3 separate regions of the Homo sapiens genome follow, and all the other regions are linked to region 1. Evidence: fine-mapped expression QTL. A gene starts in region 1. Each other region holds a variant in brackets. All regions are shown on one strand. Distances are from middle to middle.

Region 1 (7,133 bases):
GACTGAGGAGCCTATCTGACACTAGAGAGCAAATGTCCTGACAAGGGATTCTGCATCAAGGCCTAAACCCAAAAGTCAAAGCCAGGGAAATCTGGAAAGAACAGAGGCCAAAATATAACGGAGGAAGTCTGAGAAGCAGACCACCTATCCACTGCAGGCCCAGGTGGACAGAGACCAGGCTTAAGCAACGTTTGCCGAGCAAACATGTTGCTCTTCTCACAATATAAATATATTTAATCCTTTTATAGCAAGATCCCAAGCTGATCCCAAAAGCCCATTCAGAAGGATTTTATTATGCGAGTCACCAAAAATCAGTTACAGGCAAGTTTGCCTTTACGTTAACAGCTAAGGAGCCTCCAAGTCTGGGCTCTGGGGAAGCCCTTTGTTCCGGGAATCCCATCCCTCAAGCAGGGCTTTAATTTCACTTCAATTTCAAGTCCCCAAATCAAATTTTAAAAGTGCCCACTTAAAGAACTGCAGAATAAACGAGGGGTCCAGTACTTTTTCTGGACCCTCCAGGCCTCAGGACAGTATCAAATTACAGGGCTTTCCCTCCTGGATATGGCCCCTCCGCCCCCCCACTTTTTTTCTTTTTTAAAAAAGAGAATCCCACACACACCCTACTGTGTCCACCATTTCAAATACCTTGCAAATACATCCCTATTCTGCATCTCTCCGGAGTCTTCTAAGAATCTGGGAGGAGCTAACAAATGGAATTTGAATAATAATGAGGCGACTGAACAATTTAATTACGGAAGGTAGCTCTAGAGACTCCAATAAAACGGCTGAAAGCCTTTATCTACAAAAATGTGGCCTGGTGCTCAACGGTAAGACCAATTACCGGGAGTGCAGAAGACAGAAAGCACAAAGGTGCACACATCAGTTTAAGCAAATGAGGAATTAGCACAAATCATCCCAAGAGAGAAAACGCTATGAAAAAGGGTGACTTGAGAGGCTGCTTTCTCATCTACCAGGCGCAAGGCATAGTTAACTTTATTTCCTTTCTGATTCATTGAAAGTCGTGCCTGCCAGATGTAGAATAATGAAACTACCCTAGTGAGAAAAGCTTTGCATAGAGAATTTAAAATAAGTTCAGTGAATTCTCAATAAAAGTTCTTTAAAAATCAATAGTCACAAAGGTACTTGTATCTCTCACACAATTTCTTCAGTGTGAAACATTAAAGTTAGTTCCTTCTCTTGGATGCATACAGTTTCACTGAGAATAACATCATGTTTAACAGCCGCTTTCTATTGACCTTTCCAAGTGACCTTACAGTAAAGGAACTTTTGCTCGCTTCTGAGGGAAACTAAAAAAAGTTTAACCTCTCTGGAATACTAAAAGGCTCTCAACTTCCTTACACCTTAAGAAAATGCAGGAAGCCCCCACAAGCTGAACGATTGCTAAAACCCGCTTCTAGAACAGGAAAAAGAGTTTGCTTCACTATTGAAGCAAAGAATTCCCCGCCGCGCGCTCACTCCCGGGCAGGCACTGCCATGTCCAGGTGGTGATACCGAGAGCAGATAAGGTGTCCTGACAACGGTGTTTGCGTGGATCCCGGGAAATCTGCGGCCTCTCGGAGACTCCCACAACAGCTTGGCGAGCATCCCCCCGCCGCCCCGCGGGTCTCCCCAGCCACTACCTGGGTGGGCCCCTCCCGCGGCGACGCGGGGCGAGACTGACACCCGCAGCTGCCGACGACCCTGCCAGTCACGCCGCCGCCGGCTGCCTTTTTTTAGCCACGACATCTGACCCTGGCTTCAACAGCACCGTTCTGGGAGAGAGGTCCCAGGGCGCGCCCGCGGTCCCCTCCCCTCCCCAACCGCCAGACGCTGCGGAGAGCTTGGGGTGAGGGGCGCGGGAGGCACCGGCTCTGAAAGGGGCAGAAGCGCGCGCTCCTCCAGCCCAGACGCTTACTCCCTCCTTCCCCTTTTCCACCGATCCTGGTTGCCCCTCCGCCACCAGCACCGCGCTCCCTCATTTGGCAGCTCGAGGTCGGGCTTTTGGCGTCCCTCCCCACCCCAAACCCTCAACTGGACCCGCTCCCCTGGACCCCCTCCAAGTCGGTGGCTCGCGCACGGCCGGGCTGGGGGCGGGAAGGCGCCAAGGGGAGGAAAGGGGCGCGAGCCGAGGACGCGGGGGCCGGGCGCTCACCTCCCTCCTCTGTGCCGCTGTCCGGATCGGCGTCGGAGGAGTCGGGCCCGTCTCCGTAGTCCGCTAGCCCCACCAGCTCATCCTCCTCCTCCTCCTCCTCCGCGTCGTCCTCGTCCTGCGGCTGCGGCTTCCCCAGCACCTGGCTCATCGTGCCCACCGGCCGGCCGGCCCGGGGACGGCGGGGGTCCCGGGGTGGGGGCCAAGCCTCCTAGCCGGCCGCCCGCAGCCTATTTCTGAAGCGGAGGTTTGTCTAGAGCTCAGCGGGGCCCGGCGGAAGCGGGGGCCGCGCGTCCCCCGGCGGGCGGCGCCCAGGTCCGGGTCCCGCGGTTCCCAGCGCGCCCGAAGCCCCCTCCCCCGCCCCGCCCGCCGGCGGAGGAGTCAGCCGGAGCGCGGCAGTTCCTCCCGGAGGAGGGAGAGAGAGAGAGACTGCGTGACCCGAGTCACCTGACACACACTGTCACATACTCACATACACACCCCGCACGGGCGCGCGCGCGCTCGCCCGGCCGCGGGCACCACTCGGCGGGGCGCTGGGCCGAGGACACACATGCACACGCACACGCACACGCACGAGGAGACCGGGGAGGCGCGGGGCCCCTGCACCCTCCCAGACTCACACCGACACACGCCCCGTACACGGGGCCCCCGGGACGCCGGCCGTCACCCACCGCGGCTGCGCGCCAGGGGCCCCCACGCGCCTCTCCTTCACGTGGTCCCCGCACAGGCAGGGGAGGGGGCGCCGCACACCCTCAATGTCCCCCCCGCCGTCCCACTCCCACACGCCCGCAGAGCGTCTACCGTGGGCGGATGCCTCCTGCTTACAGTCCTGAGCTAGGGTCCCAAGCGGGTGGCCTCCCAACACTGTGGCGCCCAGATCCCCCACCCCAGAGCAGCGTGCCCAGGACACCCTGTGGACGCTCAAGAGCCCCAGGCGGAGAACTCAGATAAATGCACAGTGGAGGCGCAGTCTCCATAGCAATTGTCTTTTAGTGTGCCTTTATGGTTCAAAGTGCTTCCCACCAAGAATATTTAAAAAGCAGGCCTACCCAGACGTAAATGTTTCTGAAGAAATCACATGACTCGTGGCTGCTTAGACTAAATAATTCCTCTGCAGCCCTTTGGAAAAGGTCTCAGTGTATAACACACTCGGGGGCTATTCATGGCCACCTCCTCATGTCTCATTGTTGCATAGACTGTAATCCCACATGAATAAAATATTTCAAGGCTTTTGTGGGAGTAGGGGAGTGGCGGTGGTGGGGGGGCAATTCTCAAATAGGAATAGCAGCAACGTGGAGTGAGACTCTAAAACCTGCATTCCTCCTTCACAAGCTTTTCACCACGGAACACACTGTACCCACCCTTTCTGGGTACTGCAAAAAATTACGTGGATGAACTTCCTTCTGTGGAGCACAATAAGAAAAAACCGGCCGGTCAGCATGATGATCCAGCTCCTACAGGTGCCAGCAGCTCAGCCGGTGGTGCGGTGCAGAAGCGGAGGGAGGAAGCTAGGGCAGGAGACTCTCAGGGCCCAAGGGTGCTAACCTCCATAGGAAACATTTATTAACCACCTCCTATATGCCTGAGGCTGGGCTAAGTAGAGGGTCCAAGAATGCTCAGGGCAGTGTTCCTGCCCTGAAGGAGCTCACAGTCTACCAAATCATGACTCATGTCCTGGATTTTTTTTAGTATTTCTGAGTGCAGAAGGTGGATGCAGACACTTTCCAGAAGGTGGCTGCTTCTAATGGGAAAGGTCCTGAGATTTTCCAAGGGAGGCAGGCAGTATAATTTGGTATGACTGTATCAGTTAAGGTTCTTCCCAGGATGAAACAGACGGTATGTGCAAAGACTTTAACTGAAGCCTTCAAGTGAAGGAACAATTTACAGGGGTGTGGACAGAGTTTAGGGAATCAATGCAGGTATTAGCGATAGTGGGAAGATAACACCACCCCTAAATTTACAGGAGTGAGGAAGGGAGCTAGAGTCCTGGAGAGGGGCCACAAAACAGGAGCTGTAACTGATGAGGAAGCTGCTGCTGCCAGAACGGCCTCACATCAAGGAGAGAGCAAAGACCTCTCTTTCTCTCCATCCATCCTCCCTCCACTCTCCTGTGTCTCCCATTGGCCAAACCCATCTGGTAGCCAGAAGGCAAGGGAGCCTGGAACCTAGTCCAGGACAGAGATTGGATAGGGAGGGCAGGGAGTGGGTCCCTGGGTGGGGTGAGGTGCAAGGAGCATCACCAACACAAGCAGGCACTACATACTCCCATCAGAGGCAAGTTACTTATGCCCTTCTAAACCCGATTGCTTATCAATAGAACATCACTCCTTCTAAGGATTATTAGGAAGATTAAATGAGGCGGAAAAAAAATCTCAGGTACTTACAAAGCTCATTTCCTAGGAGTAATTTTCCTAGCCTATTTTCATCCCTTCCGTCAAAGGAAACCCCAGGGAGGAGGGCCTCCCAGAGTGTGGCTGAGGACTTTCAGCTATTCTATAGCTAGCCCACCATCCTCAAGTGGCCTTTGAACTGGTCTGATTCAAACTGCAAATAACAATTTAGGAGATCTAGAAGACTGTCCAAGGTCAACCCAGACTCAGACGTATAGGGCATTCCTGGGCAGGTTGCCAAGTGTGTAAGACCCATGGACTCAAGGGATCAGGAAAGGGCAGGTCATAATCCAACAGCCCCACTGTGCCTATGGACTAGAAAGGACAGAAATGTCTGATGATCCTCTAACTTCCCCAGGAAGAGAGATCTTAGAAGGAAACAATAGATTGGGGCACACTCCAAGATACTTGAGAATTGGACCATTCTTTTGTTTTTTTCTTTTAACATGGAGTCTCACTCTATCACCCAGGATGGAGTGTAGTGACATGATCTCAGCTCACTGCAACCCCTACCCCCCAGGTTCAAGCGATTCTCTTGCCTCAGCCCCTGAGTAGCTGGGACTACAGGCATGCACCACCACACCCAGCTAATTTTTGTATTTTTAGTAGAGACAGCGTTTCACCATGTTGGCCAGGCTGGTCTCGAACTCCTGACCTCAGGTGATCCACCCACTTCGGCCTCCCAAAGTGCTGGGATTACAGGCATGAGCCACCGCACCCAACCTGGACCATTCTTAAGAATAAGAATAAAATAAAATCCCACAAAAAAATCAGTAGAAGTCAAATCCTCAATTATATTCTACCCCAAGCTAAAGAGTCATATACAGATTTAAGATATTCTAATTTACTACCATTTCAGAAATGTATAGTTGAACAGAACAGGAAAAGCCTTGATTGCTTTTTTTCTTTTGCTGACATCATTTGAATACTGTCAGCTTTCAAAGAAGAGATATGTTGAAAATATCCTAGAAATAGAAGTTCTTGAATTTAAAAAATCATGTGTGTAGAATCTTTCTGAATTTAAATAAAAACTGAAAAACACTACAAGAACCCTGAAAGCCTTTAAGAAACTCAGCGTGGGATCTGCTCAGTGAATTGGCTGCTGCCTTGGCCGCTCTGCACTGGAGCTCAGCCTATGTCTGGGGATGTCTCCCCAGGAGAGTGCTCTGAAGAATGTGAAGATTGGTCTCTGGGCTACCCATGGTTTCTGCTGTGGTATGTAACCATGGCAAGTATGTAACCATGGCTTATACTTGACAGGTGCTTAATAAATGCTTATGGAAAAAAAGAGAGATGGGAGAAAGAAAAGAAGGAGAGAAGGAAGGGAGGGAGGAAGAGAAGAAGAAAAGAAGGGTGGGAAGAACGGAGGAAGATAGTATATGGCTCTTCACACAGATCTAGCCTATTTCTGAGAGAAACTTCAGGAAGAAATAGCAGCCAAGTTTTCTACTTGCTCCAAACCTTGGGAAATGCCACAGTGTGGGTAAATATGAAGTGTTAGCTACAAGAGAGCAACTAGGAATGAGCTGACATGCAAAAAGAGCATAAGTCTTAGGCCTTCATCTGTCCAAGACTGCCTGAGATCTGAAGAGACTACAATATCACGACGACTAAATGCTTATTTTATTTCAACTAACTTTTCCTTCTTAAAAAAAAAAAACTCTTAATTTTTAGACATTTTTAGCATCATGAAAGAAGAGCTTTGTCTATTACCCATTAAAATTTAGCCAACTAACATTTACTGAGATTTTCTACAAATAAGGAGGCACTGTTCCAAGATAATATGAACTTTAAAATATTCCCTCTAAGAAAGTGATATCATCCCCTCTACTTTATAGATAAGAAAACTCAATTTAAACAAGTCACCCAAGGTACTGCACAGAATGGATGGAGGAACTACTTTGGAACTCAGACAGCCTGACATGAAACCTTAATCCAAACTTATACACCCCATGGCCCAGGATGGCTTTGAATGCAGCCCAACACAAATCTATAAATTTTCTTAAAACATTATGAGACGTTTTTGCAATTTTTTTTTTTAGCTCATCAGCTATCATTAGTGTTAGTATATTTTATATATGGCTCAAGACAATTAATTCTTCTTCCAGTGTGGCCCAGGGAAGTCAAAAGATTGGACACCCCTGCCTTAGTCCCATTTAATGGCCTAAGGCTAAACTCTACATTAAAGCCATTGAACTGAAAACGGTAGAAGGGAAGTGATTAGCTGCTCCCAATCTCCTAAGTAAAGAAGCAAAGCTCATATAGACACTCAAAAAATGGATCTGTTGTCTCAGCCGGATTTAATTTGCAGGATTCACTAAGAGAAAAGGGAAAACAAAAAACAAAACAAACAAACAAACAAAAAACTGAAAAGCTTCCTAACCAACAAAAGAAAGAAAACTTCTTGTTATAATACAACTGTGGATTGTCATTCCTTTTACTAGGAAGACAAATGGCAAGTAATTTAGTACCCTTTCTGGTTTATATTATTTCTATACTGTATGCTAAGCCTAAGTATAAAATCCAAGTGTACTTTGGCTTGAAAATTTGAATTTTAAAGGGAAGAAGTTTGTTTCCTGATTTCAGTGAATTAT
Region 2 (7,402 bases), 100 kb after region 1:
TACAGGCCTAAGCCTGACAGTTTGGTCTTAGGTATGCTCCTGATTGTGGGGTTACCTTGACTGTTCTTTGAGTCCTGGAGAAGTCAACATGAAAGCAGTTACAAGGTCATATGATAAGCCTGTATGGGCCATGTAGATAGACTTCCATGCATAGATGGTATAGAAAAGTAAAAATTATCTTCTGCTTTGATCGTTGTTACTCCCAACATAAACTTACAGCAACAGTCTTAAACGCCAGTCAATGCTATATTTGTAAAACATCCAGTAGAGAGGTTGGGTCTCCTGATGAACAAAGGAAAGTTTGCAGTGTTAAGTGTCATACAGATTTGTCATTGCACTCTATTCTCTCCACTCCCACATGAACTACCATGGGGCAAATCTAAGCCACCTCTTGGTTTTGGTCTCAGAACAATGAGTGTCTGTTTCTAAGTTAGGGGGCGGAGTGCAGTCATGGGTTTTGGGGATCCCATACTGTCACTGGCAGCCAGCTGTGCAGCCTGGAGTGTGGGGCTGTGGCCAGGGTGGGCACAAGGAGCAGCATCTGTGTTTGTCTGTTGGGGTAAACCTGGACTTTGGCTGGAGGAGATATTTTCAGTGCTTTACCAGTATTAGTGAAGCATGGAATTGGATTCCCTGGAAGTGTCAGAAATGCCAATAAGCTTAGCAAATGGCTGTGCAGCATGTTGCACATAAATATCAATTTTAATCAGATACTGATTGGGATAGATTTCATAGCTAATCTAGAAGAAGTAATAATCTTTGTTGTCTGTCTTAGAAGAGTGAATGGTTTCCACTCAGAAAATTCAGATCTGGAAGCTCATAGTTCATAGCTGTTTTTTTCTTTTCTATTTCTTTTTCCTTTTTTTCTTTCTTTTTCTCTCTTTTTTTTAAGAGATAATGTCTTGCTCTGTTGCCCAGGCTGGAGTGCAGCGGTGGGATCATTGCTCACTGCAGCCTTGAATTCCTGGGCTCAAGGGATCCTCCTGCCTCCGCTTCCTGAGTAGCTGGGACTATAGGCATGTGCAACCATGCCTGGCTAAATTTGAAAAAGTATTTTTAGAGACAGAGACTCACTATGTTGCCCAGGCTGGTCTCAAACTCCTCAGTTTCCTGAGTAGCTGGGATTACAGGCATGAACCACTGTGCATGGCTGTCATGGCTGTTTTTTCTTTTAACTTTCAATTAAAATATATACCAAATGAAAAGTGCACAAACCGTAAAAATACAGATTGATGAATTTTCACAAAGGGAATGCCATCACGTAACTACCACCCAAATCAGGAAATTGAATACTGCCAAATTTCCAGTATCCCCCCTCCCAATCCTTAACCTGCTTTCCCCTCCAAATCACTCTCTTGACTTATAATGCAATCGATGACTTTTGCCTGTTCTGAATTCTATATAAGGAGAATCATATGGCATATCCTTTTTGTATCTGACCTCTTTTGCTTAGCAGGATATTTGCAAGATTTATCCACATGGTTATAAATAGTAATAGTTTATTGATTTACATTCTTATGTAGTATGAACATATATCACAGTTTATCCCTTCTGCTATTTATGTACATTTTGGTTGTTTTACAGTTTTAAAAAATTATCTGTATTTTAAATTTCATTTTCAACTTTGCTGTTAAATTACCAAACAATAAACTACTTAAGAACATAACCTAAATATTTTGGTTAACTACATTCTGGAACAGAAAGGCATTAATGTTAGTCTTAGGTGGCAGTGAGCTTCACAGAGACACACAAAGAGAGAGCAAAGTGAAGAACAAGGCAATCTCTCCCTATTTATGGCATGGCAAAGCAATTCAGAATGCGTTCACTATTTCTATAGATAAATTTTTTAATGTATAATGTGGGAAAATTTAATGTTCCAATTTATGAAAACAAGAATTATCAGACTGTCACATTCCAATGACTTAAGTAGCTAAACCTTACATCAAGCTTGTCTCACCCGTGGCCAGTGGGCTGCCATATGGCCCAGGATGGCTTTTCATGTGGCCCAACACAAAGTCGTAAGCTTTCTTAAAACATTATGAAGGGCCGGGTGCGGTAGATCATGCCTGTAATCCCTGCACTTTGGGAAGCCGAGGTGGGCAGATCACATGAAGTCGGGAGTTAAAAACTACCCTGGCCAACATGGTGAAACCCATCTGTACTAAAAATACAAAAAATTAGCCGGGCATTGTGGCATGTACCCGTAATCCGAGCTACTTGGGAGGCTGAGGCAGGAGAATCGCTTGAACCTGGGGGGCGGAGGTTGCAGTGAGCTGAGATTGTGCCACTGCACTCCAGTTTGGGTTACAGAGCAAGACTCCATCTCAAAAAAAAAAATTTTTTTGGAGTTTTTGTTTTGTTTTGTTTTGTTTTAAGCTCATCAGCTATTGTTAGTGTTAGTGTATTTTATATGTGGCCCAAGACAATTCTACTTTTTCCAATGTGGCCCAGTGAAGCCAAAAGATTGGACACCCCTGCCGTAAATGGAATTAAAATGTTGGGCATAAGATATCCTCAAAAGACTGTCATAATATATTTTGTGGAAATAGTTCACTTCATTTCTATGATTAGATGGATTACCAATAATTTATAGTTTATTATGAGTAATGCTGCAGTGAACATTCCCCATATGTCCTTTGGTGTACATGTTTGTATTTCTGTTGATTATATACCTAGAATTGGAATTGTTTGGGCATGGGATATATAGATGTTTGGCACTACCAAACAGTTTTCTAAAGCAGTTATACCAGTTTACATCCTCAGGCACAGGTGTTAAAAGAGTTAGCATTGCTCCAGATCTGTGTCAACCATGGTGTTTCCAGTCTTTTAAAATTTTAGTCCTTCTTGTCTGGGCGTAGTAGTTTTACTTCCTATTTCCTTGATGACTTTTGAAGTTGAGCACCTTTCCATATGCTTATTGGCTGTCTGGATAACCTGTTTGGTGAAATTACCTTTTCAAACTCTGGAGCATTTTCCTATTAGATTATCTTTTTCTTATTGATTTTGAAGACATTCTTTATGTCTTCTGGACATCAGACCTTAATTGGATACATGAACTATAAATCTCCTGTCACTGTGGTTTTTCTTTCATTTGAATTGATTCTGAGCTGGGCATCAGTCTTTATGAAGCTAGTGTCTTTCCAGTATGTCCTTATTTCTAGGATGATTAGCCCTTTTCAGGGTGTCCAACTGAAGTCTGGAGTGTTTATTTACTCAGTTTTTCTACCTTTGTGTTCCCTAAACTTCACAGCTGCTTGCAAATCAGCAAATGCCACAAAGGAAAACATGTCCTCAAACATTTGGCTTACCTCTTTGCACCACCCTTTCCTTCATGATCTTGAATACTTAGGTTCTTGCAAGGACTTGGGTCTTTGGTCTTCACACAGATTTTTTTGTTTGTTCAATGTTTTGTTGAGCTTTTCTGGTTGTTACTGGTGGTAGGATTGGTATGGTCGGCAGGTAAAATGTCTGCCCTGCCAAAGACATACTCATTTCCTAACCTTCAGAACCTGTGCATATTACCTTAAATGATAAATGAGTGATATTACCTTATGTGGCCCCCCAAAATGTTATTAAGGATCTTGAGAGAAGGTGCCTCTCCTGGATTATATGGACAGGATCTTGAGAGAAGGTGCTTCTCCTGGATTATCTGGGTAGGATCTTGGGAGAAGGTGCTTCTCCTGGATTATCTGGATAGGATCTTGAGAGAAGGTGCCTCTCCTGGATTACTAGGGTAGGATCTGGAGAGAAGGTGCCTCTCCTGGATTATCTGGGTGGACCCTAAGTGCAATCACATATATCCTTATAAGAAAGACAGAGGGAAATTAGACAGAGACGCACGAAGAGAAGGTGAAGTGAAAACCAAGGCAGAGATTAGAGTGTTGTGGCCTGAACCAAGGACCATCTGCAGCCACAAGAAGCTAAAAGGGACAAGGAACAATTTTCCCCTAGAGCCTCTGAAGGGAGTACAGCACTGCCAACAACTGGACTTCAGACTTTTGGCC[T/G]CCAAAACTGTGAGTGTGATGGTTAATTTTGTGTGTCAGTTTGACTGGGCCATGGGATACCCAGATACCTGGTTAAACATTATTCCTGGGTGTGTCTGTGAGGGTGTTTCTGGAAGAGATGAGCCTGTGACTGGATAGACTGAGTAGAGCAGATGGCCCTCCCCAGTGTGGATGGGGATCATTCAACCCCTCAGGGCCAGTCCTGATGGAACAAAAAGGCAGAAGAAGGTTGACTTCTCCCTGCCTGAGTCCATGAGCTGAGACATCAATCTTCTGCCCTTCAACTAAGACTTACAACCATCAGGGATCCTGGTTCTCAGGCTTTTAGACTGAGACTCAAATTTACACCACTGGTTTTCCTGGGTTTCCAGCTTACAGGGGTCAGATTGTGTGACTTAGCTTCCAAAATTGTGGGAGCCAATTCCATTCTAGATTTTTTTTAAGACACAGCCTCTGTTGCCCAGGCTGGAGTGCAGTGGTGTGATCTCAGCTCACTGCAACCTCCACCTCCTGGGTTCAAGCGATTCTCCTGCTTCAACCTCCTGCAAGTATCTGGGTTTACAGGCACGTGCCACCACTCCCAGCTAATATTTGTATTTTTAGTAGAGACGGGGTTTTGCCGTGTTGGCCAGGCTGGTCTCAAACTCCTGGCCTCAAGTGATCAACCCATCTTGGCCTCCCAAAATGCTGGGATTACAGGTGTGAGCCACTGTGCCTGGCCTCATTCTAGATTTTCAATATCCATATCTATCTGTATATCTCCTATTTGTTCTGTTTCTCTGGAGGACCCCAATAACAGTGAGAATAAATTTGTTTTTGGTTTGTTTTTTGGAGACAGAGCTTTACTGTGTTGCCCAGACTGGAGTGCAGTGGCACAATCATAGCTTACTGCAGCTTTGATATCCCTGGCTCAAGTGATCTTCCCCACTTAGCCTCCTGAGTAGCTGAGACTATAGGTGCATACCACCAAAACGAGATGATTTTTCTGATTTTTAGTATAGATGGGGTCTCACTATGTTGCCCATGCTGGTCTCGAATTCCTGGGCTCAAGTTACCCTCCTGCCTTGACCTCTCAAAGTGCTTGTGTTACAGGCGTAAGCCACCACGCCTGGCCAGATTGCTGTTTTAAGCCACCATGTTTGTGTAATTTGTTACAGCAGCCACAGGAAACCTATACAGTTGGTCTGACATAAATTAATTTATCTGTAACATTTAAAAATTAATAGTAGTTTAATAATTTTATTGCATTGTTTCTAGATTTTAATTGCTATTTCAGAATAAATTGGTGGAATGCAGTTCTTTCTTTATAGAGGGATAGTGTGTAATTTTTAATACATTGTGAAAAGGCACATAATAGAATAAACTTTGGCCTCTTTTATTGGAATAATAGACTCAAGAAACTCATTTGATGTTTTTCTGGTAGGTTGAAAGTTGTGCCCATTATTAGTTTTCCTTGTTGTAGTATAATGTCGAAAGAAGTTGTTGAGATACTTGTTAAAAACATAAGAGTGGGGAAAAAATGTAATGGAACCATTATATATGAAAAAATTTGGACCTATAGTCCACATAGATTGTTTAATCAACATGATCATTATTATAATTTATAGGAAAAACTTGATAGTTATGTTTATTCTGACCACCTGTAACCCGTCAGTGGGGATACTTTTTAAAAGAGAAAACTGTCTTGTCCTTATGACAGTTAATTGCTAAACAGAGTAGATGCACAGAAACCCAGCTCTTGTTTTCCTAAGGGGGGGACTATGATATGTAATGGGATGGGAGTAGCCACTGTCACATCAGCAGGTCATGGGATCTTACCAGTCATAGCCCCTGTGGCAGTTGCTTGACTTTTTTGGATATACACTTCTCTGCAAGCCCTTGAGAGCAAAGTCAATGTCTTTATGTATTCATGGATTCATTCAATAGTTATTACTCCCTTACCTTGTAGCAGGTGCTATGCCAGGTACTGAAGATACTCTAAACAGCAAAAACTGACATGGTTCCTGTTTTCATGGTGTCTAGTGGGAAACAGACAACCAAATAATCATAAAAATAAGTATCTTATGGCCGGGCGTGGTGGCTCACGCCTGTGATCCTAGCACTTTGGGAGGCCGAGGCGGGTGGATCACCTGAGGTCCAGAGTTCGTGACCAGCCTGACCAACATGGAGAAACCCCGCCTCTACTAAAAATACAAAATTAGCTGGGCGTGGTGGCGCATGCCTGTAATCCCAGCTGCTGCGGAGGCTGAGGCAGGAGAATGGCTTGAGCCTGGGAGTTAGAGGTGGCGGTGAGCCGAGATCGCGCCATTGCACTCCACCCTGGGCAACAAGAGTAAGACTCCGTCTCAAAAAAAAAAAAAAATAAGTATCTTATGACAAACACAGGTAAGTGATCTGAATGAAAGGAATGAACACGAGTCCATGGGAACATGGAACAACAGAGCTTGACCTAAGCTGGGGGATTAGGAAAGCTTCCCTGAGGAAGAAATGATGAACTGATGAGTAGGCTTTGACTGGCAGGAGCAGTGGGGAGGGATTAAGTATTTCAGGCAGACAGATCAGCTCACACAGAGTCATATGATGCAAAAAAAAAAGCATAACACTGATGAGGAATTGAACAAAGGCCAAATGGGACCAATGCTCAGAAAGTTAAGAGATGTGTTGAGAGAGGTGGCTCCATGCAGAATCTTTTCAGTCAAGCCAGGGGCACTGATCTTTATCCTAGAGCTATGGAGATCTATATTGGTTTGCTAGGGCTGCCATTACAAAATGCCACAGACTGGATGGCTTAAATGACAAACAGAAATGTGTTGTCTCACACTCCCAGAGGCTAAAATTCCAAGATCAGTGTGTCTGCTGGTTTGGTTTCTTCTGAGGCCTTTCCCCTCAGCTTGCAGATGGCCACCTTCTTCCTGTGTTCTCATGTGGCTTTATCTCTGTGCACTTACATCTCTGATGTCTCTTCTAAGGATACCAGTCCTGCTGGATTAGAGCCTCACCTTTATGACCTCATTTAACCTTAGTTACCTCTTTAAAGACCCTCTCTCCAAGGATAGTCACATTCTAGGTACTGGGGGTTTGGGCTTCAGCGTATGAATTTTGGAGGGAGACACAATTCAGTCTATTAACAGAAGCTATTAAAGATTTTTAAGCAAGGGAGATACTGGCTGTAATTTACAGATTGAGAATATCATCCTGGTCATACTGCAGAGAAAAGATCAGAAGAAGCCAAAGTTGATTCAGGATGGTTAGTTGGGAATCTACTGCAGAAGCCCAGCTAAGACACAATACCAGTTGGATTTTGGCCTGGTAGTATAGATGGATGGGAGAGAGATTTAGGAAGCAAAACCAACACAATGCAGTGGTGGATTGAAGCATTCTATAGAAAGAATGGGAGA
Region 3 (5,000 bases), 31 kb before region 1:
AATTTTTTCTAATCCAGCATCTGCAAGGTCATCGTTTGCCCTCTGGTGAATATCTCTTTGGGTTTCAATTTTGTGGTCATCTGACAGACCATCCACTTTATGAATAAACACCTCGAAGTTGATGTCAGTATTCACTTTGTAGGCCCTGGTCACCGTGAGGTGGAGCCTGGCCAGGGCTTCCATGTAATCATCCTAGGACCAAAGGCAACGCCTGTGAGAGAAGGCCGCTTTGCTTCCTGAGCCTCCCACACACACTCTTCACCTGGAAACCATGTGGCTGCAACCCCCCGAAATACGTTGCAAAGGTTCCCCTCAACAAGCTGGCTTCTTATAATTCCAGTGTGAAAATTTAAGTTCTGTTAACAAAGAGAGGAAGAAGAAAGGCTAAAAAAATGCAGCTGATTTAGGCAGTTATGACTGAGGTTGATGACAGTCATAAAGATCAGAGTTGGCTGGGCGTGGTGGCTCAAGCCTGTAATCCCAGAACTTTGGGAGGCCCAGGCAGGTGGATCATGAGGTCAGGAGATTGAGACCATCCTGGCTAACACGGTGAAACCCCTTCTCTACTAAAAATACAAAAAATTAGCCAGGCGTGGTGGCATGCGCCTGTAGTCCCAGCTACTCGGGAGGCTGAGGCAGGAGAATTGCTTGAACCCAGGAGGCAGAGATTGCAGTGAGCTGAGATCACACCACTGTACTCCAGCCTGGATGACAGAGTAAGACTCGGTCACAAAAAGAAAAAAAAAAAAAAAGATCAGAGTTGCGGTTTCAGGAAGAGAAACGGACCCTACTCCACATAAGACCTTCCCCAGAATACTGTTCCTCCTAACTTTTCCAGTCTCTTGTGAACTGTGATGAACAATTAGAGATGGAGGCATGATACAGGCCACTGGGCGGGTGGGGAAGGAGCTGAGGAGCAATTTTAAGAACCACTGGTTCAGTGCAGAAGTCAGCAGACCACCGTCTGCAGGCCCTGTGCCTGTTTCTTAAAAGTAAGTTGTATTGGAACATGCTCATTTGCTTTCATATTGTCTAAGGCTGCTTTTGTGCTACAATGGCAGAGTTGAGTAAGTTTCCTCTAGAGAAACTCCTCAGAGACAGTACAGTCTACAAAGCTTAAGATGTTTGCCATCTGCCCCTTTACAGAAAAAGTCCCCTGGTCTAGAGGAATTGCCCCAAACAATACTAACTTTTTTCTTCTTCCCATGCCTATATAATGAACACCTGTGTATTTATCTCTATTTAGGAAATAAAACACCTACACAAAAGCCCTCTGTGTTTCTCCTCATCCTCCCAACCCATGCTATCCCTCTACCCCCTCATCCTCTAGAGACAACCACTATCCCAAGTTTAGTATTTATTCTCACTCATGTATACATTAATACAGACATATATATCCCCAAACATCACATATAATTCATTTACATTGTTTAAAAATGGAAAGAAATATTAAGTTGTGTGTATATTATAGTTTGCCTTTTTCATTCAACACTATGTCAGTGAGATTCACCTATGCTGAATGTTATCTGTAGTACATAACTACAGTGCATTAGTTCCTTTTAATGGCTCTATAAAACTTCCTTTTATGGATGATCTATAATTTATATTTGCCTGCTGATGGACATTATTCCCATGTATATGTGATTACAATGATATATGTACAGTCTCATGTACATGTGGCTTACTCTGAAGGGTGACTTGTCAGGTCATAGGTAGGAGTGCCTTGACTGTACCTGGAAGTCTGTAAACAGCATCTGATGCTTCAGACCCTCACCAACAATTGGTGGTGTCAGATCTCTTATTGCCAATTTGAAGGGTGTGAACAGGTCTTGTTTTTATGGCAAAAAAAAAAAAAGGAAAGAGACCTGTAGGACAGAATCTAAATGCCTTCCCCCTCTGCCCCGCCACTTGTGCCTCCAAACCTGGAAAAAACAGAAAGCCAATATAATTGGGGGTGTTTTCTGGCATTCTTCTATGCTCCAAACATCAGTAAAAATGTATCCCTAGTCTCTAGGCAAATCAAATATTAATTATACAAATAGGAAACTATGAAGAGGGAAAAACCGCAAATGGAGTCCTTCCCATCCTTCACACTCTACAGAGTTGTTTAGAATAAAGGACAAAAGCCAGGAGCAGTGGCTTGTGCCTGTAATCCCACCTACTGGAGAGGACTGCTTGAGTTCAAGACCGGCCTGAACAACACAGTGAGACCCCTATCTCTAGAAATATATATATATATATATATATGTAATTAACCAGACTTGGTGGTGCACACCTGTAGTCCCAGCTACTCGGAGGCTGAGGCAGGAGAATTCCTTGAACTCAGGAATTTGAGGTTACAATGAGCTATGATCTTGCCACTGCACTCCAACCTAGGTAACAGAGTGAGAGCCTGCCTGTAAAAATTAAATAAAATGAGGCCGGGCGCGGTGGCTCACGCCTGTAATCCCAGCCCTTTGGGAGGCCAAGGCGGGCAGATCACGAGGTCAGGAGTTCGAGACCAGCCTGACCAACATGGTGAAACCCCGTCTCTACTAAAAAAATACAAAAATTAGCTGGGCAGGGTGGCGCATGCCTGTAATCCCAGCTACTCAGGAGGCTGAGGCAGGAGAATTGCTTAAACCTGGGAGGCGGAGGTTGCAGTGAGCCAAGATCGTGCCACTGCACTCCAGCCTGGGCAACAGAGCAAGACTCCATCTCAAAAAAAATAAAAAAAAAAATTAAATTAAATGAAAGGCAAATGTCGGATTCTGGGTCAGCAGATTAAGCATTAAAAACTAAAGGTATTACTGTATGGTTCCACATAGATGAAATTCTAGAAAAGGCAAACTAAAGTGACAGCACTGCAGTGGTTGCCTGGGGCTGAGTGTTTCAGGGGATCACCTGAGAAAGGGCACAAGGGAACCT[T/C]TGGGGTGGTGGAAATATTCTATATCTTGAAGGAGGGGTGGTTACATGGTGTACACATTGGTCAAACCTGTTGAACTGTACACTTAAAATGAATGCATTTTATTGCATGTAAATTACACCTCAAGAAAAGTGTTATTGCTGTCTTTAACTGAGGAGGGGAGTTAAGGGAACATGTCTGTGAGCAAAACTACCCAATGTCAAGAGAGCATCACATCTCCAAAGATTGGAAATTGCTACTCTAACCTCCCTGCCAAGCATATAAAATGGTCTGATTACCAACTAACTGAAAAAGCAGCATGCAGCTACAAGGACTAAAAAAAAGAAAATACTTGGTTGGTTAGAACAGAGGGATTGCAGGTGATTTTTCCCATCGTTTATTACTTTCTTTGACAAATAAAAATTAAGGTAAAATACACTGCATAGTTTCTACTCTGAAATTAGATCTGGGGATTATGGGCAGGTCACAAGCACCAGCACAGGTCAAGAAGAAACTCTCTTTTGGATCCATAGCACATGTGCAATGGCTTCAGGAGATATGGTGCATTCTGTAGGCTGGGGAGCGGGGCTGGGGTGTCACCACAGATCATGGGAACCACTCTTGCTTTCATTCTTTTTTATTTTATGACATTCTGTGAGGACACATTTACTCCTGGGGGATATATTTATCCGGCAATCCTGTGACTGTAAGGAATTCATGAACAAAAAATAAAAATATGAGGAGTGAGAACAAAATAGTATTGCTTAGAAATAAAGGAAAGGGGCCAGGCGTAGTGGCTCATGACTGTAATCTCAGCACTTTGGGAGGCCGAGGCGGGTGGATCACGAGGTCAAGAGATCGAGACCATCCTGGCCAACATTGTGAAATCCTGTCTCTACTAAAAATATAAAACTTAGCTGGGTGTGGTGGCTACTCAGGAGGCTGAGGGAGGAGAATCACTTGAACCCAGTTGGCGGGGATTGCAGTGAGCCAAGATCGCACCACTGCACTCCAGCCTGGTGACAGAGTGAGACTCCATCTAAAAAAAAAAAAAAAGAAAGAAAGGAAAGGACACTCAAGTGCTGTGGAGACACTTCCCTAAAGTTTTGATTTTCCTGTCAGTGCTTCTAATCACATCCCATAAAGGTTCCTGCAAACATGATTTTTACATTCTGCTTCCAACAGAAAAGTATATTAGGTTTTGAAACTGCTTATTTAATTATTCCTTATTTTAAATAAATTACAGCATTCAACAATGCTTTTCCTACTGTTTATTTTTATGTGTGGTTTTTTTCTCTTTTCGAGATAAGGTCTTGCTCTGTCACCCAGGTTAGAGTGCAATGGCACAATCATAGCTTACTGCAGCCTCAAACTCCTGGGCCTAAGTGGTCCTCCAGCCTTGGCCTCCCAAAGTGTTTGGATTATAGACATGAGCCACTGTGCCCAGCCTTCTCTTTTTAAAAAGTATAACTTTAGGCCAGGCGTGGTGGCTCACGCCTGTAATCCCAGCACTTTGGGAGGCTGAGATGGATGGATCATGAGGTCAAGAGATCGAGACCATCCTGGCTAACATGGTGAAACCCCATCTCTACTAAAAATCAAAAAATTAGCCGGGTGTGGTGGCGGGCGCCTGCAGTCCCAGCTACTCGGGAGGCTGAGGCAGGAAAATGGCGTGAACCCAGGAGGTGGACTTGCAGTGAGCCAAGATGGCGCCACTGGACTCCAGCTTAGGCGACAGAGCAAGACTCCGTCTCAAAAAAAAAAAAAAAAAAAGTATACCTTTAAAAAATGAACTTCTCAAACATTCCTATATCTTTCTCTGCCCCACAAAAAACACCCAAGAGAAGAGCCAAGGATAGTAGCATGCATCTGTAGTCCCAGCTACCTGGGAGGTTGAAACAGTAGGATCACTTGAGCCCAGGACTTTGAGGCTGTAGCGGGTTATAATCACACTTGTGAATAGCCACTGCACTCCAGCCTGGGCAACATAGTGAGACCTCGTCTGAGGAAGAAAAAAAACTTCAAGAAACAAAATTAAAATAAAAAACACATTTACCAACCTAAATTGAAGGTCTGCCTTCAATTTAAAAATAGGCAGATGTACCTATTTTCGCCA

Direction of the effects. Alleles are on the strand shown, and positions count from the first base shown. SD is a standard deviation of normalised expression in the study named. Not every link is listed here.
In carriers of allele C in region 3, the expression in monocytes of the gene that starts at base 2,580 in region 1 tends to be higher than with T alone (moderate effect, 0.73 SD a copy in CEDAR).

What was found. PIP is the estimated chance that this variant, and not a neighbour inherited with it, causes the effect.
Region 2: its variant is the best candidate, but not a certain one, in a credible set for the expression of RRAGD in whole blood (TOPMed, PIP 0.76).
Region 3: its variant is the best candidate, but not a certain one, in a credible set for the expression of RRAGD in monocytes (CEDAR, PIP 0.76).

Annotation. Positions count from the first base shown.
Region 1 is chr6:89,409,694-89,416,826 of GRCh38, forward strand. It overlaps RRAGD (Ras related GTP binding D), which reads right to left and starts at 2,580. Exons shown (of 7, transcript NM_021244.5): 1 at 2,153-2,580. The coding sequence starts at 2,300. RefSeq lists silencers at 1,537-1,636, 1,667-1,776, 1,807-2,996.
Region 2 is chr6:89,512,052-89,519,453 of GRCh38, forward strand. The region is part of intron 1 of ANKRD6 (ankyrin repeat domain 6); the gene reads left to right. It overlaps LOC105377889 (a long non-coding RNA gene), which reads right to left and starts at 130. Exons shown (of 3, transcript XR_001744257.2): 1 at 56-130. The variant T/G (reference allele first, on the strand shown) is at 4,005.
Region 3 is chr6:89,380,176-89,385,175 of GRCh38, forward strand. It overlaps RRAGD (Ras related GTP binding D), which reads right to left. Exons shown (of 7, transcript NM_021244.5): 3 at 1-192. Among named protein-coding and RNA genes, the nearest start is that of RRAGD, 30 kb to the right of the region's middle. The variant T/C (reference allele first, on the strand shown) is at 2,908.